2 separate regions of the Homo sapiens genome follow, and region 1 is linked to region 2. The links come from fine-mapping of genetic effects on plasma protein levels. A gene starts in region 2. The other region holds a variant in brackets. All regions are shown on one strand. Distances are between the middles of the regions.

Region 1 (15,942 bases), 39 kb after region 2:
TCCCGAGTCAAATTAAGCTAGTGCTATGGTACTTCCTTAGTTTTAAAATTCAATATTCTTGATATTCATGACAGTTCCCTTTTTGAGAACTGATTTTCTGCAGTTCAGTGATACTCCATAATGCCTAATAGATGCAAAGGTAAATATGGTATGTGCACATCTAGGCAGTTTGGGCTGAATATAGGAAGAATTCAAGCCCAGAACTAAACCACTGCCTTTCAAAGCTGATGTCATAGAAGGAATGAAGAGAGAAACAAGTCAGTTTATTTTGCCCCTGCCCTGACCCTCTTACACCAACCACCTGGGGTTGAGCCAGACCTCTCAAGTTAAGGACACACTCCTCTATGAGACTGCCCACACTCCAGATGCCAGCTGCAAGTTTGAGGTTCCCCAGGCCACCTTCACTACTGAGCAACCGGCTACAAATTTGGAGGTTGCCACAATCTCTTCACATTTGATTCACTAAAATAACTCACCAAACTTAGGAAAGTGCTGTATTTATGATTATGCTTTTATTACACCAAAAGGAAATTAGAATCATCCAAAGGGAGAGACTCACAGGGTGAGCTCTGACAGGGGCCTTACCTGAAGCTTCCATTGTCCTGTCTTTGTGGAGTCCTAGATGGCATTCTATTCAACACACACTTGTGCGGCAATACTGAAGAGCTGACAACCAGGGGTTCTCCTGAGCTTCAGTGTCCATGGATTTTATTGGGATTTCATTACATAGATGTGATTGATTGAATTTTTGGCCATGCTACTCAATCTCTAGCCTCCCTACCTCCCTCAGGGATTAAGCTGTTATTACCCAATTCAAAGGCCCAACCCTCTAATTACATAGTTGATCCTTCTGGTAATCCCATTCTAATTCATCTAATTAGCCTAAACTAAGAGCCCACTGTGAGTCATCTTGTTAGTATAAATTATCAAGTGTTATCTGAGGGGCTCACTATGATTCAGAAAGACACTCCTATCTCTTAGGAAATTCCAAGAATTTAAAGTCTATCTATCAGGAGCTGGGGACAAAGATTAGCCAAATTCTTTATCATGCAGCCTTATCTAGCTAAAAGTGTCTGAGTTTCTAAAGAAATGGGTTCAATATTTTAATGGTTTTTTTCTTGTCCTATTTCTATTAATAATGGCCTATAATGCTCTCTGACCCCTACATTCTTCTCTAGGTTTCTTAGTAGTGAGGTCTAACTTGCTTCCTTCCTCCTGGGCTCTGAAACTAAGGAGAGAACTAGATAATAGAATGGCTGATACTTACAGAAAAGTACCGCACAGTAGGTGTCACTCTAAGTGCTCCACACTTGTCTCTCAGTTAAATGATCACAAAACTTTCTATGAGATAAGCACTATTCCTACCCCTTTATTGGGATCAGATTTCTCTGCATATATCAGATAATAAAAATACAGCAAGGCTGGGTGCGGTGGCTCACGCCTGTACTCCCAGCATTTTGGGAGGCCAAGGCAGGTGGGTCACTTGAGATCAGAAGTTCGAGACCAGCCTAGCCAACATGGTGAAACCCTGTCTCTACTAAAAATGCAAAAATTAGCCAGATGTGGTGGTGGGCACTTGTATAATCCTAGCTACTCAGGAGGCTGAGGCAGGAGAACTGATTGAACCTTGGAGGCAGAGGTTGAGTGAGCCAAGATTGTGCCAGGGCACTCCAGCCTGGGCGACAGAGCGAGACTCTGTAAAAAAAAAAAAAAAAAAAAAAAAAAAAAGCAGTGACAATACCAACCACAACCAGTAGCTTAAATATATACATGTTTCTTTTCTCACACAGAAAATGTGCAGAGGTAGATAGTCCATGACGGACAGAGAACATATTCTTCCCCTGCTCCTGTTCTACCTTTCATTGCCCTTCACTGTACATACCAATATAGCTGTTCTAGCTCCAGCATCTATATAGAACAGCTATTTACAGTGAAGCTATAAATAGAATAGCTAGCATTCTATTTATTGCATCAGAAGATGGTAGTGACTTCTCCATTTGAAGAGACTTTCCCAAACGTCCATGCAGCATGCATACATACCTCTGACTCCCTGACTTACCCAGCAACTTGATTTTGAAAATAGAAAGAGAAAAGCAGTTTGTCACCAACAAGCAGTTTGTCACCTACAAGGGATGCTTAATATGAAAATAACTTCTGATTTTGCATCAAAATCTATGGAAGCCAGAAGGCAGTGAGATGACATATTCCAAGTGCTGAAAGAAAAAATAATTCTATATTGGGTAAAATTACCCTTCAAAAATAAAGGGGGAAATCAAGATATTTTCAGATAAATGTAAAAATGACAGCATTCATTGCTAGTAACTTTCTTGCTCTGCAAAAATGCTAAAGGGAGTCCTTCAGGCTGAAATAAAAGAATGCTATACAGTAACTTTTTTTCCTATCTAACTTAAAAGACAACTGTGTAAAACAATGGTTGTAAATCTATATTGAAGGCACACTGCATATTAATACGTAATTTGTGATAATATCAACATAAAGTAGGGAGATTGAGTGGTATAGGAGCAAAGCTCTTATAAAATTGAAATTAAATTGGTATTAATCTAAACTAGATTGAAGTCAAAATTTGAACTAGATTGGTATTTGTTTGAACTAGATAAAATCAGGGAGAGTGATGCCTCCAGCTTTATTCTTTTTGCTCAAGGCTGTATTGACTGTTTGGGGTTTTTTGTAGTTCCCTTTGTAGATCCATATGAATTTAAGGATATTTTCCCATTTTTGTAAGAAATAACATTGCAATTTTGATAGGGATTGCATTGAATTTTGCATATCACTTTCGGTAGTAGGGACTTTTTTCAATATTAATTCTTCCAATCCATGAGCATTTGATATCTTTTCATTTATTTGTATTTTCTTCCATTTCTTTCATCAGCATTTTATAGTTAACAGATATTTTGCCCCCTTGGTTAAGTTTACATCTAAGTATTTATTGTAAATGGGATTTTTCTCTTAATTTTCTTTTCAGATAGCCCATTATTAGCATTTAGAAATGCTACCATTTTTGTATGTTGATTTTGTATCCTGCAACCTTACGAATTTATTATCAGGTCTAAAATTTTTATGATAGAGTCTTTAGGGTTTTTATATATAATATCATGTTACCAAAAAAATAGAGACAATTTCATTTCTTCCTTTCCTGTTAAAATGCCATTTATTTCTTTCTTTTGCCTAAGATCTGGCTAAGTATTCCACTAAATCAACTCAAAATGATGAAAAACTTAAATATTCAGGTCTTATCTGAAACCGTACAATTACTAGAAGAAAACACAGGAGAAAAGCTTCGTGACATTCTTCTAGGCAATAATTCTTTTAAAGATATGACCCTAAAAGGACAGTCACCAAAAGCAAAAATAGGCAAATGGGATTACATCAAACTAAAGGCTGCTGCACATCAAGAAAAACAAATAACAAAGTGAAGAGAAAATCCACAGCATGAGAGTAAATACTGGCAAATCATGCATCTTATAATGGGTTAATATTCAAAATATGTAAGGAATTCAAGCAACTCAATAGCAAGAAAATATATAACCTGATTTAAAAAATGGGCAAAGAACCTGAACAGACACTTCTCAAAAGAAGACACACAAATGGTCAATAGGTACATGGAAAAATGCTCAGCATCAGTAATTATTAGGGAAATACAAAATAAAACCACAATGAGATATTACCTCAGACCCATTGGAATGGCTTTTATTAAAAAGAGGAAATAAAACAAGTGATACAGAGAATGGGAAGAAGAGAGCTCATACATTTTTGGTGAAATTGTAAATTAGTACCTTTTATGGAAAATGGTATGGAGGTTCCTCAAAAAGCAAAAAATAGAACTACTCTATGACCCAGTAATCCCGCTTCTGGGTATCTATCCAAAGGAGCTGAAATCAATATATCAACAGGATGTCCGTTCTCTCGTGTTTATTGCAGCCTCATTCACAATAGCCAAGATACAGGAACAATGTAAGTGTCCATTAATGGATGAATGGATAAAGAAAATGTGGTAAATATACACAATGGAGTAGTATTCAGCCTCTAAAAAGGGAGAAATTCTGTCATTTGCAACAACATGGATGAATCTAGAGGACATTATGCTAAATAAAATAAGCCAGAAACAGAAAGACAAAGATCATCTGATCTAACAAAGTTATGGAATTGGAGAGTAGAAGAATAGTTACCAGAGGCTGGGGTTAGGGTAGGGATAAAGAGAATAGGGAGTTGTTGATCAAAGGGTTCAAAGTTTTAGATTGATAAGAGGAATCAATTTTAAGATCTAGATCTATTCCACTGTAGGGTGGCTATAGTCAATAATAATGTATTATATATTTCAAAATAATTTAGAGAGTAAATTTCAAATGTCTCACCATAAAAAATGATAAGTAAGTGAAGTGATGGGCATGTTAACTAGTTTGACTTAATCCTACCATACTGTATACATATATTAAAACATCACATTGTACCCCATGAATGTACACAATTATGATTTGTCAATCAAAAATTTATAAAAATAAATCCAATAATATATGCAATGTATATACAATTGTTTAGCCATATGTGAAAGAATGAATTTGGATGCCTACCTCACACCATTTTACAAAAATTAACCCTATAAGTGTCAAATAATACGTTTTAATTCTTATGTAGGAATTAAAGCTATACAATTCTTAGACGGAAACATAGGTGTAAATTTTTGTGACCTTGGATTAGGCCATGGTTTCATAAATATGACACCAAAAGCCATGCAACAAAAGAAAATAATAAATACATTGACTTCATAAAACATTAAAAACTTTTGTCAAACAAATGACATTATTAAGAAAGTGAAATGACTACCTTTAGAATGGGAGAAAATATTTGCAAATTATATATCTGCTAAAGGTCTAATATCTAGAATATAAAAAGAACTCCTACAACTCAACAACGAATGGCCAAATGACTCAATTTCTTTAAATGAGCAAAGGACTTGAACAGATAATTCTCTTAAGAAGTCCTGCATGGCCGGGCACAGTGGCTCACGCCTGTACTCCCAGCACTTTGGGAGGCCGAGGCGGGCAGATCACGAGGTCAGGAGATCAAGACCATCCTGGCTAACACGGTGAAACCCCGTCTCTACTAAAAATACAAAAAATTAGCCGGGCGTGGTGGTGGGCACCTGTAGTCCCAGCTACTCTGGAGGCTGAGGCAGGAGAATGGCGTGAACCCGGGAGGCAGAGCTTGCAGTGAGTCGAGATTGCGCCACTGCACTCCAGCCTGGGCAACAGAAGGAGACTCGGTCTCAAAAAAAAAAAAAAAAAAGTGTGGTGTGTGTGTGTATATATATATATATATATATATATATATATATATATATATATGCAATGGGTTATTATTTAAGCATAAGAAGGAATAAAGTACTGACACATGCTACCACATGGATGATCCTTAAAAACATTCACTTGTGCTAAGTGAAAGAAACCAGATGCAAAAGGTCACATATTGTATGATTTTGTTTATATGAAATATCTGGAATAGGCAAATCCAGAAAATAGGTAAATTCAAAGAGGCAGAAAGTATTACTCATGGGGTGAGGGGAGGAGGAATGGGGAATGACTGCTTGATGGATAAGTGCCTTCTTTTTGGGGTGATGGAAATTATCTGGCATTAGATAGTGCTATATTTTGAGTATTATGTAAGCCACTGAAATTATACACTGTAAAATGGTTAAAATGGTGAATTTCAGTTATATGAATTTTATATCCAGTTTTTTAAAAAGATCTTGCTCAGAAGAAATATCTTTGCTCCAGGACATCCATCTACCTTCTCAGTCCAAGGCCCTCACCAGCTTCTTTTACATTTTCCCAGGAATATTATAACTTTTGAGAAACAAACTGCTTTTTTAAACATCACACTGCTAAAAAATCAAGAAAGTGAGAGTTCCATGTTTTGCTTTTAATCGGTATAAGGTATATTGTGAAGATAAACTAAATTTGAATAATTCTGAATAAATTAGTGGAAAATAATGACCTTATTGTTGGTTAAGTGCGGGGAAAATAAACTATTACGTTTGGATGAACTTAGCTTTTCCTTGTGAAGGTTGCCAGACTAGCTATTATTAATGTACTGTAATTTCCACAAGGTTTCTTTCTTCTGGTGAAAGATTTTTTTTTTCCATTTTCTGATCAAAGCACTCCACTTGACAACATTCAAAAATGAGTGTGCCTGTGCCTTCTCCAAAACACCTTTGGTATGTCGGTGAGACCTCGTCATCCTCTAGTGGTTCTATTCAAAAGTTACATTCCACATAGATGTCCGCTTGAGCTTTAGCCAGTAGATACCGTCCTCAGTGCTTACCGTGATACTCCAAGCAGTTTCTTCTGGATGACTTCCAGAGCATCACAGCTCACGTGAACTGAGACTACTCTGCTTTAGCTCCATTCTAATGGAATGAAATACTCTGTTCATCTTTTCTTTCTCACTGTTTCTATTCTCTTTCCACCATCTCATATGCCAAAATATCCTGTAGAATATTTATTTTCTATTTTGAGCCACAACAGTCACTATTATATAGATTCCTAATACACTTTTCTCAATATTTAGAAAAAGTGATAATCATAAGTAGTGTAAAATATTCCAGTCACCGAGTATGTACTATTAAAACATTTTCTCCTTGCACCAAACAGCCATAGCAGGGTTTTGTTTTGTTTCATTTTGCTTTATTATCCGACATGTAGTCTCTTCCGAAAAAAGTGTATTTTAGATCCCACAAATAAACGTATCAAGACATCAAGAAACAGGTAATAATTTATAAAATTTTGAACTTGCACTTACTTTTTTTACTGATTCCAACCAAGAAAAAAGTAATGCAAATATAAATCCCTTTAAAAATTCTATCATGAAGACAGAAATAGCTGCTGGATTTAAAATCTAATTTATAATGTAGTGATAAGAATAATAATGTTAAATGTCATACGACTATGTAGAAACAGCATGTAGTTTCAAGCAACTAATGAGCTCTTTTGGAAATAAATAATTCTCTTTTGGATAAATAAATGTTCTCTTTTGGAACTAATTCAATATTATCTTTTAATACCTGAAGCAGAGGGGTACCAGAATATTGCTGCAAACATCTGGGGGCAAGACTTTTGTCCAATATTAAACATGTCTGTAATATAAATATATTCTTTTAAAAATTATCTGTTTTTTTATAAGAAGGAACTGTGTTGTATATTTATTTCAAATATTCTATACTTTAAACTGCTGTTATAGGAATATTACAGGAAATATTTCTGTGTGGTCAAAAGAAGGCAAATTAGGTATAAAATTTGCTTGGATGTATTAACTTGAGCTTTGGAAAGAGCCAGGAAAGACATTGAGATTTTTTTTGCAGCTTTCCAGTCTTTCCGCCTTTCTCCTTCCCCTGTAGCTGTA[A/G]GATTGCCTCTCCCCACTCCTCACGCCAATTTTGCTGTCCTGCTGGGAACCCTTTTCAGAGAGAACAAGATATATAGATACATGATTGATAGATAGAAAGATAGATAGATAGATAGATAGATAGATAGATAGATAGATAGATAGATAGAGATAGATGATAGAGAGACAGATAGATGCTATTGTAAATAACATTCTACTGTCTCTTTATTAAATACCACGTTCCCAATTATTTATGTGTAAATTATCTGCAGTGTCTATTAATAGTCTGAATTTCTCACTCTTATTGCACTTTATTGTCTTGGTAGACTGGGATCACCATCAGAGTACAATTACCTCCAGGACAGGAAGATAGGTCAAATTTAATACAATGTGATTACATAAGCGTGAGTGGATTTTTCCTTGCTATTGATAAATTTCATTAGCTAAGATATTTGATATCTGTTTCATAATGCTAAAAATATGTGCAAATATTCTCTTTTATCAGCACATTTATTGTCAGCCCTCCATATCTGTGGGTTCCACATCTGTGGATCCAACCAACTGTAGTTTGAAAATATGTTTTAAAAATGGATGGTTGCATCTGTACTAAACATATATAGTATAGACTTTTTTTTACTAACAATTCCCTAAACAATGGAGTATAACTATTTACATAGTGTTTACATCATATTAGGTATTATAAGTAATCTAGAGATAATTTAAAGTATATGGGAAGATGTGCATAGTTTCTATGCAAATACTACATCCTTTTATGGGGACTTAAGCATCCATGGGTTTTAGCACCTGTGAGGGGTCCTGAAACCAATCCCCCAGGGATACTGAGGGACGACTACATTCTCTATTACTTCCTTTGATGAGGTTACTGACCTCCACTGATAAATTCTCATGCATTTGTAATGGACTTAACTCCAATGTTTTTGTAAACATATAGTATTAGTGAGCAACTTCTATGGGTTTTATTTTTGCAGTAAGTTGGATTACTCACTAGATTGTGAGCTACTTAATGTCTTATACATCTTTATAGTCTCTGTGTTGCCCACAGTAGGTAGTCAATATTTGCTGAACAGAAGTTAAACATTTTTTAATCACTATATATGATATTTCTTTGGCATAAATGGGTTTTTAATGTGTTAGAGTTTCATATGCTTAAAAATGTGTTCAAAAGAAAACTATCTTTATGTCAAAAAGATTTATACAGTTTGCTTTTTAAAGTCTGTGTGAATGAACCAATACTCTGTCTTATGTCACAGCTGGACACTCCAATTCACCGCTTTAAGTCCAGCACTGCTAATTCCCTGACTAGCTTCCCTAGGAAAGGATATTCTTTTAAGTCTGGCGCTATGCTGTAAACACACTCCTGTTTATTCCAGCTAATGAGAAACAGGCTGTCTGGAAATGTGTCTCTGAGGAAAATACTGAGCAAATCTTTAGAAAATAAAGCACTCCAGATTGATTGAAAAGATAACATTTGGTAACATGGTGCAAGAAAAACTATAATATCAAGCTCAAAAGAAGGCAAATTAGGTATAAAATTTGCTTGGATGTGTCAACTGGAGCTTTGGAAAGAGCCAGGAAAGACACAGAATTTTTGCATCTGTCCGATCTTGCCCCTTTCTCCTTCCCTTGTAGCTTTAGGATTGCATCTCCCACTCCTCACACCAACTTTGCTGTCCTGCTGGGAACCCTTTTCTGGTCTTGTTATCTTTCTTTAAGATCAGCCAGGCTGTCTCTTCCTCTTTTTCTTCTGGTAATAAGGTGTCTAATAATTTATAGCCTTTTAATCTAATGGCTCTTTCTGTGGACAGTTTCAAATCTCTTCTTTAGATACTTGCATTTGAAAAGCCACTAACTTTTGAAACATAGTCGTTATTATCAAAAAGTTTTGTAGGACTGTGCCTTACTGAGCATTGATTTTTGTACTTGGAGAATAGTTTTATCAAAAACATAAATTATTTCACTTATTCACTTAGGGTAAAATGCCTAACAGTAGACAAGTGACAAGACTTAAAAAAAAAAAAAGCAGTTTCTCATCAAATTCTAAATCTCTTGAATCTCTCGTCTTCATAATTCTTCAACTCCTTGAAAGTATATGAACTGCTTATTGGTCATTAACTTATTTGTAAATGCAAGTGGAACTCCCATTTTAAATACATCCCCTATTGATTCTAAACCATACTCTAAATTTGTCTATGTTGCCCATTCCCTTCCAACTTTAGCCATCGCTGAAACTTCAATTGCTTTCCTGATGCTACCAAAAGAGCAGTATCATCAGTGCCCCCTCACTAATCATGTAATCTTCCTTCAGAAAGCATTTATGTTTTTTGTTATTTTCCTATAAGAAGAGAAGAAAGTCTGTTTTGGACTTCGTCCAGCCAACACTATTAGGCAATTTCCACTAATAAAAAGTGTCATGAGCCATGATAGAAAAGTTTTACTACTTTAAGAATTTTTTCCATTTCATAGCCAAAGAATATCTGAATTTTGGAGATAACACATAAATATAGAGTTTTAGGTTCTACAAAGAACTAGGGTACAGAAAAATAACTTGGTCATTTCCCCAGGAAATACTCTGACTACTAATACCACAACGACTCCTAACACCACTACTGTAACAATTTCACATTTCACAGTATTTTCCCTCTCCATAGCTTCAATTGCAGCCAACATGGAATCCAAAGAGAACCAGAACTTTCGTTGTGAGAATGTTTTACACTTATTCCATTTACACTTAACACTTCATCATAAAAGTAGAACAGGTAATCTCAATGATATTTCATTGGAGGCTCTAAGAGGCTAAATGAACGACTTGATTAAGTTTACCAGGTTTATAGCAGAAATCTACTAATGTCTTCATTTCTGACCTACAAATGGCCAATGGGTCTAAATTTATGGGCCATAGACATTCAGGGTTCTATAGACTTACTTTAAAGAGATTCATATCTACAGATATATATTTTAAACTAAATAAATATTACAATAATATCTTTGTATTTTTCAATATGATAAAATACAAATTAACTTTTAAATTTTATTGGATTTAGAGTGTATTTTTATTATATATTTCTTAGGCAATGATTAAAAATAAAGTTACTACTACTATAGTGTCTGGATTCTTTTTTAATGTTAATGAAAGATTTTCATACCAAAAAATGTTGGGAACCCCTGTGCTAAATTATGATTCAGGTTGCTGTATTTAATTATGATTTGGGTCTCTGGGCCACAAATAAAGCTAGGAGAAGGAAAGAACTTATCTATGAAGAAAGCAAAGCTTCTTTTGGTTTTCTATGCACCTTTTCTGTAGCTTTTATTCCTATCTGTCACATCCTCACCCCTTACATGTCTCTCTTTCCTCTTCCATCAGGAAAAACAAACAAACTAAAAAACTTCATGATGTTTATGGAAGCTACATGTGTTTTTACTAACAATATTTATTGAATGTCTATTGTGGATGTGGTAATGTGCTATACACCTTATACACATCAACTCATTTTATTCTGACATCAACCATATAAAATGGATATTATTCGTCATATGTTGCAGATGAAGAAACTGAGGTTCAGAAATATTTACCCTTCAAAGTCACAAAACTGATGAACTGCAAACTCATGACTCAAAATCATGGCTGACAAATCCCAATGCCTACATTCTTTCAAAGGTAAATATTTGAATTTTTACATTTTTAAGGCTCAGGTATGAAGTTAAGTAACTTAGGTCATTCTAGAATATAGAGTTTCATTTTGCTATTTTAAAGTAGCAGCTGTTCTTTGAACATAGAGGTTGTGTCTTCTTTGTTCACCTGTCAATCTTCAGCACATAGCAAAATGTCTGGCATATACCAAATGCCCAGTGAAGGCTTTTTAAATCCTTTCTCATTCTTTCCACTTTCTACATTCAGTTAATCATTCTCTCTCAAAAATGTCTCTCAAATTTTACTTCTCTTTATTTCTATTGCCACTGTATTTGTATAAGTTCTTGTTGTGAACAGAATCATGTCCACCAGAATTCATATGTTGAAGCCTTAACACCCAACATGACTATATTTTGAGATAGGGCCCTTAAAGAGACAATTAACGTGTAAATAATTGAGTGTATGGTAGTTAATAAAGAGCCAGTAGAATATTAGTTACAATAGCATGCACCACATATACATCTTGCTCTCTTTGGGTTTACACACAATTACCTACTGTCCTATCCCTCTAACTGCAACAGTAAGTATTGAAATTTGGGTCATAAGGGTGGGGCCCTAATCCAATATGACAGATGTCCTTATAAGAAGAGGAAAAGACAACAGCAATGCACGCACAGAGAAAAGGCCGTCTGAGGACACAGCGAGAAGATGGCCATCTGCAATCCTAGGAGAGGGGTCCCAGAATAAACCACCTTTAAATCGATTTCAAACCTATTATGGAATTATTCATGCTAAATATACCATAGTGTTTATATTTCTAGGCCAACATGATAAGCATATTAAAAATGACTCCAAAGCAGATCACAAGTAGAATCTAAATTATTGACTGGTTTGCTTTTTAGAAAATTATGTAGCAATTCCCTCACTTAGGAAAATTTAATTTTAGGCTACTTTGCATGGTTTCCAACTGTAACTTTCCATGGGAAAAAAATACAGGAAAATGGGCATGATATACTTAACATCGTTGAAAATGCATAATGACTCCACCTTTCTGAATATTGGTCAAATGTTACATTCCTAAGAACTTCATTTGTTGAATCATCAAACTTTGTTAGTGAAGACCTAGGTATGGAGGTTAAAAGCTGTTTTTACAATTATTAGGCTACAAATAGTTATTACATAAAATTTGTAGATGCAATAGAAATTTGCTTGCCAAATATTTAACTAATTTGACTATAGTGTGAAATCTTCTTAAAGTGGATGATCTGATGATTCTTTGCTCACTGAGGACAGCAGCGTAGGAGTAAAATTTTAGTTATTTTTAAGAACCCATTTCTTAAAATGTATGGCATGAATTGTACTCATTATTTCCAGCTTCAAGTATTCCACGAGAATTACTCTGTTTCTTTGTTTGTGGTATAATCATGGGAAGTTCACCTAAGGGCAGAGTGGTAAGTGTAGAAAATCCTGGTTTATTGCAACACATGGGGACTATATTTGGCCTTCGAAAGGATTACTTGCTCTAAAGTTTTAGCATGCAGCATCTAGTATTCAGGATAAAACATCATGTTTTTTCTTAAAATCCTGGTCAAAGTTCTGGTCAAATAGCATACTAGCTTTTTTTTTTTTTTTTTTTTTTTTTTTTGCCCAGGCAAAACTGCATTGTCATTGTGTCCGTGATATCCAGTTAATACCTTGTTAATAGCCTATACCCTCTAGTAGGCTTTAAAAAAAAGGTCTTTGTAGGGTGGGGACACAGATGAACATAAATCATAATTAATTAACAGGCCACAAGGATTGCCATGAAAATAATAGCTTCCTGGGTCCTTCAAATCTAATCTACCATCAAACTTTCAGAGTCAAAGCAATCTCTTTGACAGCCACTTGAGTTAATTTGAAATTAGATAAGTGGAGAAAGCAGAGAAGCTTTCCTTTTATTGAATAAAAATTAACTTCTAAACCATGGAAAAATAACCTTTCCTGTGATTTTGTGATTGGTGATCACACTGGAAAATTGTTCAAAAGTATTAAAAATATTGATTCAATAATGGATAATCTTTTACAGCTTTTATTTTTAGTGTCCCTTGAAGAACCCAATTCTTTAATTACTCTTACAGAAGGAACACAACTTCATAATCCTTAATTTAGGTTCAATAGAGCAACAACAATCGTTGGATCAAGACAAGTCTAGGTTTAAATTCTGTATTTTTAACTTGTAGTAACCGTTCTAGATGCCAAGTTTCCCTTCATAAAACTAGGGTAGTACAGGCTCACTATCCCTTATTCACAATTCTGAAACCCCTAAACCACTAGAAACCATTTTTTTCTTACTTTGCAGAAAAACCTGATGTGACCCGAATCCATTATGTGAAAACCTGACTAGCACTGATGTGGGGCTACTTACAGCCTTTACTTATTCTATCCTATATAGATATGCATACATTTCACTGAGGAAGGATTAATGTTGTTTACCGAAGAAAGACACCCCAGGCCTAAAACCCAAAGATTTCGGAATCCTGACACATATTTAGCCGGAAGGATTTCATATAAGGGATTATGGACCTGTAATACCAATGATGAGGATTCATATGCAGAGTAAAAAAGCAATCAATATTAATTAGTAATGCTTGACCCAAAGTAGATTTTTTTCAACAAACACATTGTTTCCTGTTCCTTCACAGACAAGTGTTCTGTGCAAAATTATATTCGTGTTAAATGATCCATTTATTGCCTTACCTCCCCAATAAATGTGTGATGACATCTTTTAAAAAAGAATAATTTTGGTTCAGATCTATAAGATGTGACAAACCGCAATTGTGATGTTTGGAATGATTCCAACACAGTATTACAGTTTTTTTTAAAGGCCATGCCATGGACAGTTTCTTATTGTCTTACCTCACTGGGCACGCCCAGTGCTGGCCGTGTATTGTGACTTGCACAGACAGGAAGGCCACTAGGATCCTGAAATGCTAGAAATAACTCAAAAATAAAAAATAAACACCAGCAGTAAAAAGTTAGACAATGGAGAAAATGATTTAGAAGGAAAGCCTAAATATTTTAACTCAGTGTTTGACTATGAAAATGGGTAAAGAGAATGGCATATTCAGAAAGTATCTAAACCAAAGTCAGTGAGAGAACTACTTAACATGACACTAGAGTGAATAACCTTAAAGGAATGTTATTCTCATTTATCAATTCAAGGTGATGATAGGACTAGTTCATCATTTCGATTTCAAGATTTACTGTTTTCCAAGTGTATCTTGGCTATTGCCTCGTTCTCATGAGTCTCTAAATACCGTTCACTAAGCCCAAATTAATTGTCTGAAGGCACATAGTGAAGCAGTAATACTGGTTAGCAATGTTTGTTTCATCAATGAAGCTACTGCTCTTTCCATAAGTATGACTAATAGGTTAAAAATATGCAAAGGGAAACTTGGGAAGTCTGAGGGATTTTCCAACTCCAACAACCAATTCTCTGATTCTCTGGACACCAGCTGGGTGTATAACAACTCAGTTCAATTCTGACACCCAGAGTTAGCTCAGATCCCACAGCTTAAAGGCTTGGTCCCACAGGACTACCCCCACTTCAGGTGTCTGTCATAAATCCTGGGCCTCCGGTACTTCTGACCAACTGGCTATAAATTCAGGATTCTCCTGATCCCTTCCTAAGGTTTGGTAATTTGCTCGAATGCCTCACAGAACTCAAGAAGATGCTTCTCTTATGTTTACTGGTTTATTATAAAGGACACAAATGAACGTCCATATAAAAAGATACATAACGTGAGGTTCAGAAGGGTTTCCAAGCAGAGGCGCTTCCATCTCCATCCTCCATGGGTGGACAAGTTCACTAATTCTAAAGCTCATTGATTCCTGTTATTCAAGAGTTTTTATAGAGCTCAGTCTCCAGCCCTTCTTCCCTCCCTAAAAGTCAAGGGTGGGGCTGAAAGTTTCCACCCTCTAATCACTTGGTCTTTCTGGTAACCAGCCCCAACCTGAGGCTATGTAGGGATCCCATCCAAAGTCAACTAATTAGCATACATTCTGCTGTGGAAAGGAGCTCTTTATGCATAAAAGAAGACTCTCTGATCAGGGAAATTTCAAGAGTTTTAGGAGCTCTGTGCTAGGCACTGGGACAAAGAACAAATATATTTCTTCTTTTTTTTTTCTTTTTTTTATTACACTTTAAGTTTTAGGGTACATGTGCACAACATGCAGGTTAGTTACATATGTATACATGTACCGTGTTGGTGTGCTGCACCCATTAACTCGTCATTTAACATTAGGTATATCTCCTAATGCTATCCCTCCCCCATCCCCCGACAAATATATTTCTTATTACACTACAGTAGTTCCCCCTGCCCCTTATCTGTGGTTTTACTTTCCATGGTTTCAGCTGCTTGTGGTCAACCACAGTTTAAAAATAGTAAATGGAAAATTACAGAAATAATTAACTTTAAGTTTTAAATTGGACATCTTTGAATAGTGTGATGAAATATTACACTGTCCCTCTCCAGCCCACCCAGAACCAGAATCATCCCTTTGTCCAGAGTACCCATGCTCTATATACTGCCTGTCTGTTAGTCACTTAGTGACTGCTTTGACTGTCAGATCAACTGTCGGCAGTATCATCGCAGTGCTTGTGTTAAAGTAACCCTTTTTTACTTAACAGTGGTCCCAAAATTCAAGGCTAGTGAGTTTGGATTTGCCAAAAGAAGCTGTAAAGTGCTTCCTTTAAGTGAAAAGGTGAAAGTCCTTGTTTTAGTCCATTTTTGCATTGCTAAAAAGAAATATCTGAGACTGGGTAACTTATTAGAAAAGAGGTTTAATTGTGTCATCCTTCTGCACACTGTACAAGAAACAGTACTAGCCGGGCACGGTGGCTCACGCCTGTAATCCCA
Region 2 (15,942 bases):
ACCACTGTTTACACTGCTTGCTTCGTTTGGAATGCAAACCATAATGGCAGAGATGTCTATTTCTATACTTTTGTAAATGTATCCAGATAGCACAATGATGGGTGCCTACAGTAAGTCAAAAGTAATCACCACTATCATCGCCAGCAATCAGGAGCATATAGAGGAGTTCGAATACCATATATGGGTGGCCACTGTAATGAGAAAGGCAGAGTCACTGCCAGACACTTTAAGAAACCCTGCAGTTGAAAATGGCTTCTGAGAAGCTTCTGAGAAGCTTCTGGTCAGCTTTCTTAGACACTTCTGTGCAACAATGCCAGGTTAAGCTCCTTAAAAACCTCACTTTCAGCATACCACTAAAGAATCTTCATTGGCTCCTGCTGCTTTCAACTCAAACTCAGACTTTCTCTTTGGTTTTCACACTTCCCACCATGCTCCCTTCAGTTTCCCTTAAAGCTCTTGACTTTTGCACCAAAGGGTTTGCTTCTAGTTCCCCAAATATCCCTGACCTTTACTTCCTCTGTACTTTGCTGTCATTCTTCAATATTCAAAACATCCCTCTCTCCCCCATTTCTGTAATTAGCATCTACTCATTTTTAACATTGGGTCTCATATCATTCCACCTTTCCCAGGCCTGCCCATGCAACTCCCAGAAGGCTAGCCAACAACTGGTGGTAACTCACAAGACTCTCTTACAAAACCACTTACATGGTCTGGATTTATAGTTTAATTCACTTGTAGTATTTTTAATGAGTAAATTTATTTTCTCCAAAATGATTATAAGCTTGTTATAGACAAGATCACTCACTCTACATTTTTTGCATCACACACTGAACTGTAATTTCCTGCTTAGAACTGAAGCTGCCACTAGTAAGAACTGATTAACATGAGTTGAAGTAGATTAAAGAGCAAATAAACCTGGTACTAATGGGTAAAAAGGAATTAGGAGCATCCACATGGCTTCTTTCTTGAATTCCTGGATTACCTTTCCCTGCCTCTTCCAGGCAGCCCCAAGGCAATAAAGCAATGGAGGAAGGCCTGTGGAACAGGGCTACAATCCATCTGCTTATCCAAAATGCCTGGAGACTGCAAGAGTCTCTGAACCTGGAATTTTTCTGGAAACCAAGTGCATAGACATATTAATACTCACACCCCAAAAACAAGCAGGACTGATGGCAGCATCATGTAAATAAATACATTACTATTTTCCCAGTGAAGATTAGAAATATTTAAATTAGATAATAATGACTATAAATAGCCTTATGTCAGTTCAGATCAGGATTATAGCACCAAATAATTTAAGAAAATTAGCTTTTGGGGCCGGGCGCAGTGGCTCATGCCTGTAATCCCAGCACTTTAGGAGATCAAGTGGATCACCTGAAGTCAGGAGTTTGAAACCAGCTTCGCCTACAAGACAAAACCCTCTCTCTATGAAAAATACAAAAATTAGCCTGCTCTAGTGGCACATGCCTGTAATTCCAGCTACTTGGGAGGCTGAGGCACGAGAATCGCTTGAACCCACGAGGCAGAGGTTGCAGTGAGCCAACATCATGCCACTGCACTCCAGCCTGGGCAATAGAGCATGACCCTGTCTCAAAAAAAAAAAAAAAAAGGAAAGAAAGAAAAAGAAAATGAGTTTTTGGATTTCAAAATTGGAAAAAAAACTATCGTGGATAACTCCTAACACCTGAAAGCCACTAGGGCGCGAGCAGTATAAGGAAACAGTACTAATCCACTGACAAAGCATTTAATGTACAATTTGATTAATTCCATGATGGATGCCCAATAAAGCAAATTAAATAAAAACAGTCTCTGCTTTCTCATGGTTAAACATAAACTCTGAAAAAAAAAATTAATCAACCGAGGAAAGAAGCCACCCCAAAAATTTACACTAGTAAGTTTCAGAAAAACAATTACACAAACCTAAAATATTTATAGTAAATTTTATAATTACACTATAACTCAAACTCATCAGCATCTCTCCTTGTTTAAAGTTCTCTGCTATATCTGTTTTTTCTAATGAGAAAAATCAATGATAACTTAATCCACAATTTATACAAATCTGTACATACAAATATGTGTTTGTAACAAAAGGTAGACCCATATAGTATTTATAAAATGCACATCTACAAGGAATAATGTAACTGGTGAAAGGTGAAACAATATATGCTCAGAAGTCAGAGGAAGTATAACGCTTCTGCCAACTTAAATTTGTTCTTTCCAAATCCACTTATTTGTGAAAGGTCATTTGGCAGAGGTAAAATCACAATCTTTCACTGAAGTTACTTGAGCACAACTTTGAAAAACCGTTTGTCAGAAAATCTTGTTAAGCCTCCAGTTAAGCAGTCGTTCTTATAATATTACCATGGATTAGGTCATTTATAATTTATCTTTAGTCAAACGAACACCATGTGGTAAAGCCTGGAAGAAAGTCTGGGTTTATTTCCGTTTGTCCCGTTGTGGGGAATTAGGACCTAAATAAATGCAACAAGGTGCCCCTAACTGCAAAGTCACACGCAGTGCTTTTCTCTGCCTTCCTGCACGCTGCTATAGTGTGCCAAAGGAGACCAGCAGAGGGGCTGAAAGGAGTCTGAATCACAGGCCCAAAGGCCCAAACCCATTACCACATTTCTCTAAAACATACATGCTTCTCGATTTACGATGGGGCTACATCCTGACAAATTCCTCCTGAGTTGAAAATATATTTAATATACAGTAGAGTACCTGTTGTTTACTCTCACGATCACATGGCTGACTGGTCACAGCTCACTTCCATTGTCCAGCATCCAGAGAAAGTATTTTACTGCATATTATTAGCCCAGGAAAAGATCAAAATTCAAACCTTGAAGTATGGTTTCTACTGAATGTCTATCGACTTTGCACCATTGTAAAGTCCAAAAGTCCTAAATAGAACCATTCTAAGTCGGGGACTGTTGGTATATGCCATAAAACTTTTTTTAAAAGAAAAAAAGGAAAAAAACATCTATTCTTTTTCCTGGTTAAGTCATTCAGATCTTGGGTTCATCATCCTTAATGAAATAAAATAATGTCCATATTATGGAGGTGTAGTGAAAAACAAAACTAACTTGCAAAGCTCTTTGCGAAGTGCTTAACACACGTTATGAACATCACAGATAATGATTATAAACTCCTACTCTCAATAACAACCCCAGGACTGCCAAAGGCAAGCAGGCAAGCACAGTCCCAGGGATTCGGGAAACCTTCATTAGTCTCACGCCAGTTCCTCTGTTGGTGAAAACCCCAGCAAGAGCTGAGAAACAGCATTCTGGGTTGGACACATGGAGATAACTAGGAGGCCAGGACCTTCCTCTCAAGAGGAACCGGAACCAGAACTGGAAGTCCAAAATGAAATCTAAATCCACTACCCTCCGTCTTTCTCAACTCAACTGAAAAGGACAGGATTAGAGATCTACGGGTCTTAGACATATGCCACTAAGATCAGTAATTAACTGCTTTCTATGAAGCAATTTTGATAACTGTCTTGTGAATAAATAGCTATCAATCAGATATTCATAGTTCAGAAGACTATAATGGAGTGGAAATCAAAATGAAAGATGAATTGAACTTTCTATATCTAAAACCTCATATAAGTAGCATCACTCAGAGGAATGTCAGAAATCTCTTATAAGAGTAGATGTTGACAAACATAATCATATACTATAAGAAAAATTGTAAATAGAACAGCTTCAGACTTGCTATTCTCTTTTGTTCCCATCATGTCCAGTTAATTTTACTTTTGCCTGCCTTACTTTTTTGACACTGTCTTGTTTGTGTTAACATCCTTCAGAGAAACATTTTAAGACTTTTCAGTAAGTCATGCAACCACAAATAACTAGAAATAGGAATCCAGTAAATGCAAATATAAGTCGAGGAATAAGGAGATCTTCATTCTATTTGTGATTTTTACCTACAATCTTTTGCATGGCTTTACGGGTGGGCTGAAGGGCTGGATGGCTAACCTTGGTTCATAGTTTGTGTGCTATTTTTGATTTTTTAAATATTAAAAAAGTTCCTAGGTGAAAGTTATGAAAACATTGCATCTATTGGGATTATAGATATTTAGCATCTTCTGTTTACCTTCTGAAATATTTTCTTGGGGTTCATGTAGTTATAGAAAATTAACAATTGATTTCTCCCCAGTTCTTCTCTAGTGCTTAAATCTAAATGTGGTGCTTGTACAGGCCACTAGGGAGAGACATAGAGTCTTCATATCAGTTTCTTGGCAGTTGTGTGACATGTTTCATAGCAAGGACACAGCAGTTTCACTGAATGCATTAATGACACATGCCCTGTCAAGGCTCTATTCACCCACTGGGGAACGACACTTTAATGGAGCAATGAAATACTGCTTTGTGGTCTATGGAACTCAGAGATGATGTTTCATATGGGAAATGATGTTTCATCACATAGGAAAGGAACCCACATCACATGCAGAATACTAACCCATATTCACCATACAGAATATAAAAATGGTTAAATATGAAAAGCGACATTTGCAAACAAAAATGCATAGTGATTTTCACAGCAATGGTAAAATTTGCCATATCACCAATGGCAAATTTTACATCACCAACGAAGACACTTTTGAAAGTTAAAAATAAGTTAACTTTTTTAATCCTCCAATCCCATACCTATACATAACACACGTAAACACACACACACACACACTCAAGGTACATTAATTCTAGACTCACCCAGCAGTGAGTGACTCTCATACAGGCTATTGGCTTATCAGGGAATGTTTCTCATTTTACTCTCTACTGCACATTTTCTTACTGTAAACCAAAGTAAGTGACCGTAACCAATACAGAGATGTTGCCTTACTAAATCATACTTTTACTAGTTTTGACTTTGCAGAAATAGCAAATAGGTACTGCAAAATCAAGGACTCAAATTATCAGAAGCGTTATTGAGCCGATTATTACATTTCTGCGGTATTTAAGAACAGAAAGATATTTTCATCACTATAGTTACGGCAATGTAAGTATAGGCACTGAAAATTATTTTTGTGATTCACAGAATGCAGTCTGTTCTATTTCATGTATATTGTTTTTACTCAAGAGGCATTCCTTTAACCCCTATATTAAATTATTACACATTCCAACATTTTAATGTTTTCCCAAAATTTAAATGCAAAGGTAGTTTGATTTCCAAAAATTAGTCTTCTCAATCTTTAAGTGTATTTCAAAATATAAATATAAATAAAATATTTCAAAATATAAGGCTATTTTCTACACATTGTGTATGTGTTAATCAACAGTCAAATTAAAGTTGACTGTAACACACCACAGGTACCTCTCCACTTGCCACCAGTTGAAATAAACTACCGCAGTATAGTTCCAGCAAGGGGTACTGCAAGTGTTTGAACTGAAATGTCGAATATAACTTCTTTAGGAACTCTCTTAAGCATACTCTATATGGTTATGGCAGGTATGAACTTTTTAGATAAAGATATACTCTTTTGGAAGAGCCAGTAAGAAGTAGGAACACACACAAATCCTTTTTCAAAATCAGGATGCCTCAAAAGTATTTTGGCAACATTTTCAGGCAAAGGATTAAACACCTCTTATTTAAAAGAAAACAAAACAAACAAAAAACCCAAACAAGAAAAAAAAAAACTTAGTTTGCAGTATCTCATGACCAGATTTTAGGAATGAAGAGCTTATAAAGTTGAAACAAGCCTTGCATTGCTTGATTGTGATCTAACTGACTCTAATCTCCCGTTACATCTCAAGTCTGACCAACTTCAAGTGAACTCTGAAAGCTCTGGAGCCTGGTTACTAAAGTCCCTGACACTTTTTTTCTAAAGTCGCTCACAGCGCCTGGTGCTCTGCAGACTATGAACACTCCAGGAAAGTAAGGCTGGGTTGACTGATCACCAGTGTCCCAGAATCTGTTTGGAGTCCCATGAATCAGCTGGGGAAAGAAACGAGCATTTCCCGACCAAAATGAACTCATACTCTCCAGAGCCCCGCTGACTGGGCAGGGTTCAAGACCCCTTGGTTGCCCCAGAGGAAACCAGTCTGAAATAGATTTCGGGATCTCTCACTGGGCACCTCTCCGGGCCCTTCACTCGTGTAACTTGCTTGCCTCTCTAGTAACAACTTTCTATTTAAAAAGAAGAAGATTTTTCTCCAAAGCAGCGTGCACTGAGCTCAGTAACTTTGGATCCCACGTACACAAGCTTAAAGCACACACACTTTCCCCCGCGCAGGTTCTCGGGTCCGCCGCAGACCCTAACGCAAACTCTCGGGTTCTCCGCAAACCCTAACGCAGACCTACCGTGGCCTCGCCCGCGTCGGGCTCCGCGTCCGAGAGGTCGAGTCCGGACTCGAAGGCGGCGGCGGCGGCGGGCGCCTCGCGAGGACCCGGGAGCAGCGCAGCGGCGAGCAGAGAACACGCCACAGAGAAGAAGCCCAGCAAGTGCATGGTGGAAGGACCGGGGGTGGGGGACCGGTCCGCTGGCGGGGGCAGGGGTGGGGGCGCGGGCGCCCCTGCGAGGCCGCGGGCCCCTCCTGGTCCCTCTCCCCCGGGCTCCTCCCGGCGACCCCCCCTGGGCGAGCCGGAGGCGGCGGGAGCGGGTCCGGGGCTCCGCGTTCCCAACTTTGCAGGGCGCCCTCCCAGCCAGTGCCGGGGAAAGGCGGCGGGTGTCAGGTAAAAGCCTCACAGGAAACCGGACATCCGAGCTCCCCGCATTCGGAGCCCGCGAGGTGAAGCGAGGGCGAGGGAGGACGCCGCCGCGGTCCGCGTCGGTGTAGCTTTTTGGAGAGGCGGGGCGGGGGACACCAGAACACCCCGCGATGTTCAGCCCCTCCAAACCCGCCAGAGCCCTCGTCCCCCTCCTCCCTCCCCTTCCCCGAAGTGAGAGGAGCCGGGCCGCGGGCGCTGCGGCGGGGGCGCTGGCGGCGGTGCCGGGGGCGGGAGGAGGGCGGCGGGGCGGCTGGCGGCGGCGGGGCCCGGGAGCGCCGCGGCGCAGGATCCTCCAGAGCGCGCCGGGCTGAGCGGCGGCGGCGGCGGCGGCGGGCGCAGGGGCAGGGCATGACTGACGCGCCCTCTGCCTGCGCTTATGTGAGAGAAAGCGGCCGAGGGAGGGAGCGTGCCGAGCCCGGGCTGCCCTCCCCTCTCACTCTCCCTCGGAAGCCGTCTCCCTGGAGCTCCCCGTTTCCCTCGCCTCCTCCCCGGCGGCCCCACCTCCCCCGGCCCCCCTCTGGATCTCTCCCTCCCCGCCCCTGTCCCCTGCGGGGAGCGGGCGGCCGGAGGGGCAAGTTCAGTCCCGGGGCTGGCGGTTGGCGGGACCGGCTTTAGAGGTGATGCGACCACCCTGGACCACGTGCAGCGGGGAGAAACTGGGCACCGTGGGGTGGAGGGAGCCCCCGCTTTATCCTCGGCCACTCCCGAGTTCTTGTCCTCCCTCCCGCACGCCTGGCCCCCAGAGCCCTGCTCAAAGTTTGGAAATGTCCTGGGGGTTGTAAAAGTTCCAAGAAAAGGTCATCACTATGTCAGAGAACCCTATGGGACCTCGGAGGGGTCCCCTCTCTCCCTTGGTCTGTGTAGTTGAAAGTTGCCTGATGATCCAAGAACCGCAGTTCTCAGGATGCAGTGCAGGCTGTTGGGATGGATGCTAATGATCCCTTTGGAATCCTAAACTTCTGACAGGTGAAGAGAAGGGCCAGAATCTTCGTGGAGAGTAAAGAGACACATTGTCAGCTTCTGCAAGAAGTTGGTTTACTTGAAAAAGGGGGTGATAAAGAGAGATGTGTGTGAGACATATTCCAGAAAGGATGTGTAGCATCCAAAGAAAAGTGACTGCATTTCCCCATTGGAAAAGCACTGGGGTTTCCGTTGGGCTGGTGGCATTGGCTAGCTGCCTCCTTGGGGCAGGGTGAGCAGGTTACAGAGGACCACGCTAAGGGGTTTCAACAGTGTACAGAACATCAAAAGTCTGCCTTTCACTCCCAATCTACTTTTAAGTACACAGATGTTATAGGTCCATAATATCTTACCGGAAGAAGAGACTTTCTTATCTGGTTCAACTCTAGATTTGAAACTCCTCACCCATAATTTACTTGAAGGCTTAAATATCTCAAAGGACAGGGAACCTTCCATTCTGTGTGGCTGTTCACTCCCTTTATTGATGAGCAACACTGCTGAAAAGCATTTCCTTCTATCTCTCTATTGCTTTTGACTCCTGGAGTTTTACACAATAAATCTAATCTCACTTCCACAACTGAGTCCTTCAAATATTTTGAAAATATTTATCATGGTCTCCCTAAGCTAACTTTACTCCTGGCTAAATATCCCTTTTATTCCCCAAGATGACAGTTCCAGTTTCCCCCCTTAACCATACTGTTAGCTTTCCATGTTCATGAAGTATGCGGTTGAGAACATGGCTCGGTACTTAGTGCTGTAATGAGCATGCAGAATGGACAGTATGCCTTTGTTGATACAGCCTTGGATTGAGTTTATTTTCTGGCAGCCAAATCACAGTGTTGACTCACACTACCCTTAAAGTCAACAAAATTCCTCAATAATTTTTCATATGTACTGCTACTTAGTCACGTCTAAATTCCCCTGTATTTGTGGAGTTAAGTTTACTGTATCCAAGATGCTTTTTTATGTATCTTTATGAAATTCCATCCCATCAGACTCGGTCCATGATCTAGCCTGTTGAGATGTTTTGTGATTTGGAACATGGTCAGTGTATCACTCTCTTGCTGTCTTCCTGCTCTATGCATATTTGATCAGCCTGCCATAGTTATCTTCAGACATTGATAGATCTGTGAAAAGGGAACAGCTAAGGGCAGACTGGGGTAGGATTTGAATAGAAGGTGGAGTTTCCATTCAACCATTTGCTATTACAATGATTCTAAACTTTGATTGCACTTGGCATCACAAAAGGAGATTTTGAAAAAACAGATGCTTGAGTACACCTTCTGCCTTTCTGGCTTAACTGGTCTAACTGGAGTAAGGCTTGGACATCAGGATTCTAATAGGCAAACAAAATTGAGAACCACAGGCATTTCCAACACCCACAGGCCTAGCAGCGGGTGAAGACTGGAAAATCAACAAACTCAAAATATATCCAAAATATATTAATATCATATTAACTACTGTTTCATTTAAATACAGCAGTAAGCTGTATTCAAACTTTTTTCTCACAAAAGTGTTATCTTCCTGCTGCTATACTTTGAGTCAGAAAATGCTGGCAAAAAGTTTATTTGAATAAAAAAAAGGTCTCCAAAAACAATCATGCAGTAGTTGTTTGTCTTAAGGTTGGTCGGGCACGGTGGCTCACGCCTGTAATCCCAGCACTTTGGGAGGCCGAGGCGGGTGGATCATGAGGTCAGGAGATCGAGACCATCCTAGCTAACACCGTCCATCTTAGGGAGACCATGATAAATATTTTCAAACGTTGGTGAAACCCCGTCTCTACTTAAAACACACACACACACACACACACACACACACACACACACACACACACACACACACACACACAGAATGTCTTAAGGTAAAAACGAATAGTTGCTCAGGACTTTTTGGTTTTTTTTCTTCCTTACCCCCTGGAAACACTTTTTGCCACTAGCAGATTTTAAAGGTTGAGAAAGTCCTTTTCACTGGTTTGTGAGTTCATCACTAGCTTCATGCAAGACCTATTTTACAACAGGTCTTCTAAATCTGGTTATTCAAAAAGCATTGCTCAGTCAGTGGAGAAAGAGAGGTAGCAGGGCCCCAGCCAGAATAACACCTCTTTTACATATTGAGTTTTTGTTTTCTTTGATGATAGGTTTTGTTCTTTGTGTTTTGTGTCTGTGTGTGTGTGTGTGTGTGTGTGTGTGTGTGTGTTTGTTTGTTTGAGATGGAGTCTCGCTCTGTCTCCCATGCTGGAGTGCAGTTAGAGTACAGTGGCACCATGTCAGCTCACTGCAACCCCTGGGTTCAAGCTATTCTCCTGCCTCAGCCTCCCAAGTAGATATGGGAGATGATAGTTTTGGATGGCAAAATAATGATGATAATATATCCATTGTACATTCTCTAATATCCATTCTGACCATCTACTTTATTTCTCATTTGTTATTCCCTACCTTCTTGCTTTGTTAGTTTTACTTTGTTGCTTCATTTCAAGCTTTTTTAGCTGAATGCTTAGTTCATTTTTCTTCTTTTTAGTTTAAAAATACAAGTTTCGGGCCATGTGTGGTGGCTCACATCTGTAATCCCAGCATTTGGGGAGGCTGAGGAAGGAGGATCACTTGAAGTTACTTTGAGACCAGCCTGGGCAACACAGCAAGACCCCATCTCTGCAATCAATCAGTCGATCAATAAAATACAAGTTTTGTCTAAATTCTGCTTTACTTGTATTTCTCAATTTTGATACGTAGTGCTTCCTTTGGCAAACAGTTGCAAATATATCTTAATTTGTTTATATTTTTAACCCCCAAATTATTTGTGTTTTCTTAGTTTAGGGATATATGATTTTTATCAATTTCTAATTTTATTATATTTAATTTTTGCTATAAATGATGTTGCTTTTAGAAATGCATTCAGGCTTTCTTTGTAGTCCTGGACATGGCTGATCATTGCAACTAATTCTGTGTGTGCTTTATTTTTGTTGGGTATTAATTTTGAGCTTATTATAATGTTCAAATCTTGTTTGGGAATGACGTTAAAATCTCCAGTTATAATTGTTGACATGTTTTTCTGTTTCTGACAGTAGTTCTTCCTGTTATTTTTTAACATAATGGGATACTATATCATTTTGATCTAATTTTCTTCTTGGTAGTATACAATGTCATTTTTTTAACTTCTGATATTTTTATTTGAAGTTCTACTTTTTCTGATATTAAAATCATAGGCTTTAAGAATTGAGATCAGCTGTGAACATGACTTAGGTAAAACTATGAACCAGTTATGTACACATGACTTAGTTGTTTCTTCTAGGAAACATTAGCCTGGAAAAGATAAGACTGCAATCCAGTATTTAAATTCAGTGTTTGCTTCAAGAAATGCTGGCAAAACAATATATCGAAGATAATAATATTCTGACTCTGGTAAACAGCCTGCTTATTAATGACAGTTTTCTTACCCAAACTCTCACTTACAGATGTTAACTGATCCTAAACTACTAGATCATGAACGTTGCCCAATCTTACTCAATTCCCCACTTTGAAAGACCCACCTTAAACTACTCGTGTCCAGACTCCAAAGCTCTACAACTATTCTGCTTCTGACTTACCCAAGACACCCTAAGACCCTGTCCAGGTGGCACTCTCCCTTACTGCTGTAGGTTCGGCTAAATGGAACTTTTGTTTATTGAAAACTTTTCTACTGATATTTTCGGGTGTACAACAACTTGGAGGTCCCATTGAAATCCTTCTCCCTAGTAGCTCAAGCAAAGATCCTAAATTCAAAAATAGTGCAAATCACTGAGGCCTCTTGAGCTTCCTGGCTTGGTGGGGGGAATCACTCTGACTGCAATGAAGGGTTATGTCTTCTGTTAGATTTCAGTCCCAGTTTCTTTTTATCAAGCTACCAAATGCTAAAAGATCTCCTTTCAAGAACCCTTTGATTATTTGATCAGACTTGAACAAATTTATCCTCAATAGATATCTGCCTTATTACTATTGCTTTTTATCCCTGCTGCCTTCATAATTTTCTCATGGGAGTCAAAAAAAGGAAGTTCATAAGAAAGAGAATAAGCACGGGTCCTGTTAAGTCAATTCACTGAGCCATCCCTTGGGACTAGATGCCCAGAAGGATTGGTATTGACTAGACAGATATTGCCATAAACTTTATCAAAAGCTTATACAACGATTTGAAGTCTTGTTTTGTCTGTGAGACACTGATTTTGAATGAGATCTCTTGGTCAAACTTTCCGTCTTCCCAAACTGCACATTTATCAGATTTGCCACTGGAGATTACCTAACCTTTAGTTTGGGGAGCCAAGGGCATGAGGTACACAAACAACTCATTTGACCACCCATTGCCAGATCATTTTGCCTTTGTCTCAGATTAAACCCAAGTTCATATCCCCTCCAAGCCATATTCCTGCCTCCTACATGTATTTTGCACTATAACTGATACTATGTATCTCTGTCTAAACAGCTTAATTTTACCAACATTAATTTAGAATTTCAGAGGCCATTTGAGAAACCTTTTGTAAGAACAAAACTGTTCATTTGAGAGGTGCCTTATGGAAAGAGAGTGAAATTCCAAACATTCAATGATATGTATGTTCTGATTGATATAAGAAGTCTTACAATAAAAATACAGATTCCACAATTGCTTCAGTAATTGTTCCACGGAAGGCGCAAATGAAAAAATGTGAAAAGCTCTTTTTTAGATCTGCCCAAATCACCACTTGACTCAAAAAGCTTTTACCTTTACTATTCCTGTTCTCTCACCCAGTTGCCCTCCAAGTTCCCCTTCCCTGACACTCTTTCTGATGTCCCTTTTCTTCTGGCCAGCTAGAAACACTAAATGCTCAATTGGCTCTTAAAGTTGACCAAATCAGTATAAGCTCATTATGGCAGATTTTAAGCCCTGGGTTGGGTCTAAGGTAAACGTCATTTTCAAAAACTTCCAAAGTCTATGCAAGGTAGGTATAAATTTACAGAGAAATTTGCAATAGTTCTAGGAACACATAATTCAGGGTTCCCAGATCTCTATCAACTGATTTATAGGTTATTATCAACCTCAAATGCAACAAAATGTGTTGGAAAAGGCAGTGTGAATACCTTGAGTATGATTTAAGAGACTCCACATTTCAGAGTAAAACCAGAGGAACTTAAAAAAGCTATAAATTTTAGACAAAACTTTTGGAGTTTATGCACCAAAACAAAAATGACAGCATTGGAAACCTCAGGGGGATGCTCCATCACACCTATAGAAAACATTCAGATGTAGGTCCTGGAACATGTGCAGTGCCAGCTCTTGCTTCACTTTCTCTGAGTGGCCTAATGTCAGAAATAGGGAAATTTAACATACAAGCAAAACTGGAAAGGAAGATCATCCTGTTGCTAGACCTCCAAGCCCTCACGGAATGAAACTAAAGGGGAAAAAAAGGAAGTAGGAAATCAGTGACGCTCTTCCAAATGAGGGTCAAGGACTCAGTTTCCTATTTGCCCTTAAATGCTCAAGGAGAATTTCTGTGTCTTAAAAGGTGGTCTTGTGAATGTTTGATCCTGGCACTATCATATCAACCAAAAGACTTGCCACTGTCACATGACCTCTTTCTCAGAGTTAAACAACTCCAGTGGTGGCTATCTCTAATAATCCACAAATTCTCCCTGTTGCATACTGTGCCTGTCATCTTCAGACCTTACCGAGGAATGTTCTTCATAATCTGTCACTTTCAGAATGGCAGTTTGTTGTCACCAGTGGACCTCAGGTGGAACCTTGCAAACATTTTTCATTAAATTTTCCACCTCAAGAAGGACAAATTGATCACTGTACTTTGTCAACATTGGTAGGGTAATTTTATGGAGGTTGCTGAGAATGTCTCCAGTTGCTGGTCTCTTCTGCACCAGCGTAATCTAGTTAAACTGTAAAGGTGGAGGCTGGACAAGAACTCAAGTGTCAGGGTACCTTTGAACCCTTACAAATGGGTTTCATACAGTCACCTCCTTGGTATGGATTTTGAATATCCTAGTCAATGTTTGCTAATTTCCAAAGTGAGAGGAAACTTTTGTCTGTTAGAAAGGTAGATTCTGACAGTAACAGCTCGCCCTTTGAAGTTTGGATATTTCTCACCCAATTTAGGGCTCTACCATACTTTGGGCAGACATGGCAAAGCACCACAAGGGACTCACACAATATACTCACTCTTATCACCAACAAGTATGGCTTGCATTTTCTTCATATTCTCCCAAGGAATCTTGGCACGACCTGAAAAACAAAGACTTTGTCATCTGGAAAAGACAGCATAGAAAAAATTCCTAGAAACCACATTGGAAAGAAATAGCAGATAAATTTGACTAGAACAGCAGTTAAACTTGAGGGTATAGATGCTTGGATTTATGTCTCCCAGCTAAAAAGACACAAAGTTTGGCCCACTGACAAAAGGACTGACATTCCATTAGAAGATTGAAAATTAGGGATTCTAAAGTATTTTTCAGAAGCCAGTGGCCCTTGGAATAGAGACAGCTTCTACCACGAAGCTTTGTTTCAAGATGGCAACTGCAGGATGTGGACAGCTTCCACTCAAGACTTACAAAGACTTACAAAAGTCTTTGAAGTTTGGATATTTCTTACCCAATTTGGGGTTCTACCATACTTTGGGCAGACATGACAAAGCATTATAAGGGACTCACGCAATATATTCAGTCTTATCACCAATAAATACGAACTGCATTTTCTTTCTTTCTTTTTTTTTTTTTTTTTTTTGAGACGGAGTTTTGCTCTTGTTGCCCAGGCTGGAGTGCAGTGGTGCGATCTTGGCTCACCGCAACCTCCGCCTCCTGGGTTCAAGTGATTCTCCTGCCTCAGCCTTCTGAGTAGCTGGGATTACAGGCATGCGCCACCATGCCCGCCTAATTTTGTATTTTTTAGTAGAGATGGGGTTTCTCCATGTTGGTCAGACTAGTCTCGAACTCCCGACTTCAGGTGATACACCCGCCTCGGCCTCCCAAAGTGCTGGGATTACAGGCGTGAGCCACTGTGCCTGGCCCGTTAATCCCAGCACTTTGGGAGGCCGAGGCAGGTGTATCACGAGGTCAGGAGATTGAGACCATCCTGGCTAACACAACAGTGAAACCCCGTCTCTACTAAAAATACAAAAAGTTAGCTGGGTGTGGTGGCGGGCGCCTGTAGTCCCAGCTATTTGGGAGGCTGAGGCAGGAGAATGGCGTGAGGTGGAGCTTGCAGTGAGCCGAGAATGCACCACTGAGCTCCAGCCTGGGCGGCAGAGCGAGACTCTTGTCTCAAAAAAAAAAAAAAAGAAAAAGAAAAAAAAAGATATGCAGACTTACAAAAGACTTAACAAAATTTACAGTTTTACAAGACTTACAAAACTAGATTTTAATGGCTGGTGTTTTTTTCCTTCTATATTTTCTTTCATCATTGAAGGCTCAAAAGTCTGGGTAGTTAACCAATGGTTGTTATTTCTTACCCAGTAAAAATTCATGTTCTCTAACTTGAATATTGCTTTCTGTATCTTTAGTCATTCCTTGATATGACAACTCAGATATCAAGAGAAATGTATGCATGATGTGGCCAAAACCAACAATCAAGCACACTTTTCCCTATGAGTGCCAACCTGCTAGTACCAACCGTTTGTTATGAAATACTTGATTTCGTTCATAACTGGACTCAACCACTAACTGAATTTTTATGTGAAAGAGAACACAACAGAGCAGGTAACCAAAATCAAAACCTCCCTGGAAAGAAAGGTTTCTGCCTCCACTGAAATCATACTCAAGGATCCTTTCTCAAAGATAACATCTGCAAACAAACTTTCATGGAGAAAAGCCTCAGAAAGGGAACAAGGAACAGATGGTTTGTATTTAAGATCTGACTCAGATTTACAAACCTTACAATGAAGGCTTACTATGGAAGTAACTCTTTTGGTTGTCTATCATATATACCCTGGGTGACCTTTGTTGAACCTCTTTTTGTCACATAGGGTTTATGTGAATACTAAATTAGTTAATATGTGTAAGGAACTTAAAATAATATTTAGTATCTAGTAACCTCTCAATAAACTTTGGATAAAGCATTAATAATTGTAGATGTGTTATTGTGTGTTATTAATATCATGTCTGATATACTAATCTTTATTTCTTCCTTATATTTACGACATTTTTTCTGTTGTTTTACCCTTGTATTTAAGTGACTATTCAAATGGTATCAGATTTGAACATTGACTTTCTTTTTTAAGCAACTTGAAAATGTCATTCTATTGTATTCCCTCATCAAATATTGTACCAA

Alleles and levels. Alleles are on the strand shown, and positions count from the first base shown. The strength of an association depends on the size of the effect and on how common the allele is.
For the plasma level of the protein whose gene starts at base 7,058 in region 2, allele G in region 1 goes with a lower level than allele A (moderate association).

What was found. PIP is the chance, under the fine-mapping model, that this variant and not a neighbour inherited with it causes the effect. The UK Biobank Pharma Proteomics Project read protein levels with antibody pairs (Olink). The fine-mapping took linkage between variants from a reference panel, not from the people measured, so its PIPs are less certain.
Region 1: its variant is fine-mapped to the plasma level of the VEGFC protein (UK Biobank, PIP 0.95).

What each region holds. Positions count from the first base shown.
Region 1 is chr4:176,824,857-176,840,798 of GRCh38, forward strand. No RefSeq gene overlaps it. Among named protein-coding and RNA genes, the nearest start is that of VEGFC, 40 kb to the left of the region's middle. The variant A/G (reference allele first, on the strand shown) is at 7,417.
Region 2 is chr4:176,785,865-176,801,806 of GRCh38, forward strand. It overlaps VEGFC (vascular endothelial growth factor C), which reads right to left and starts at 7,058. Exons shown (of 7, transcript NM_005429.5): 1 at 6,301-7,058. The coding sequence starts at 6,447.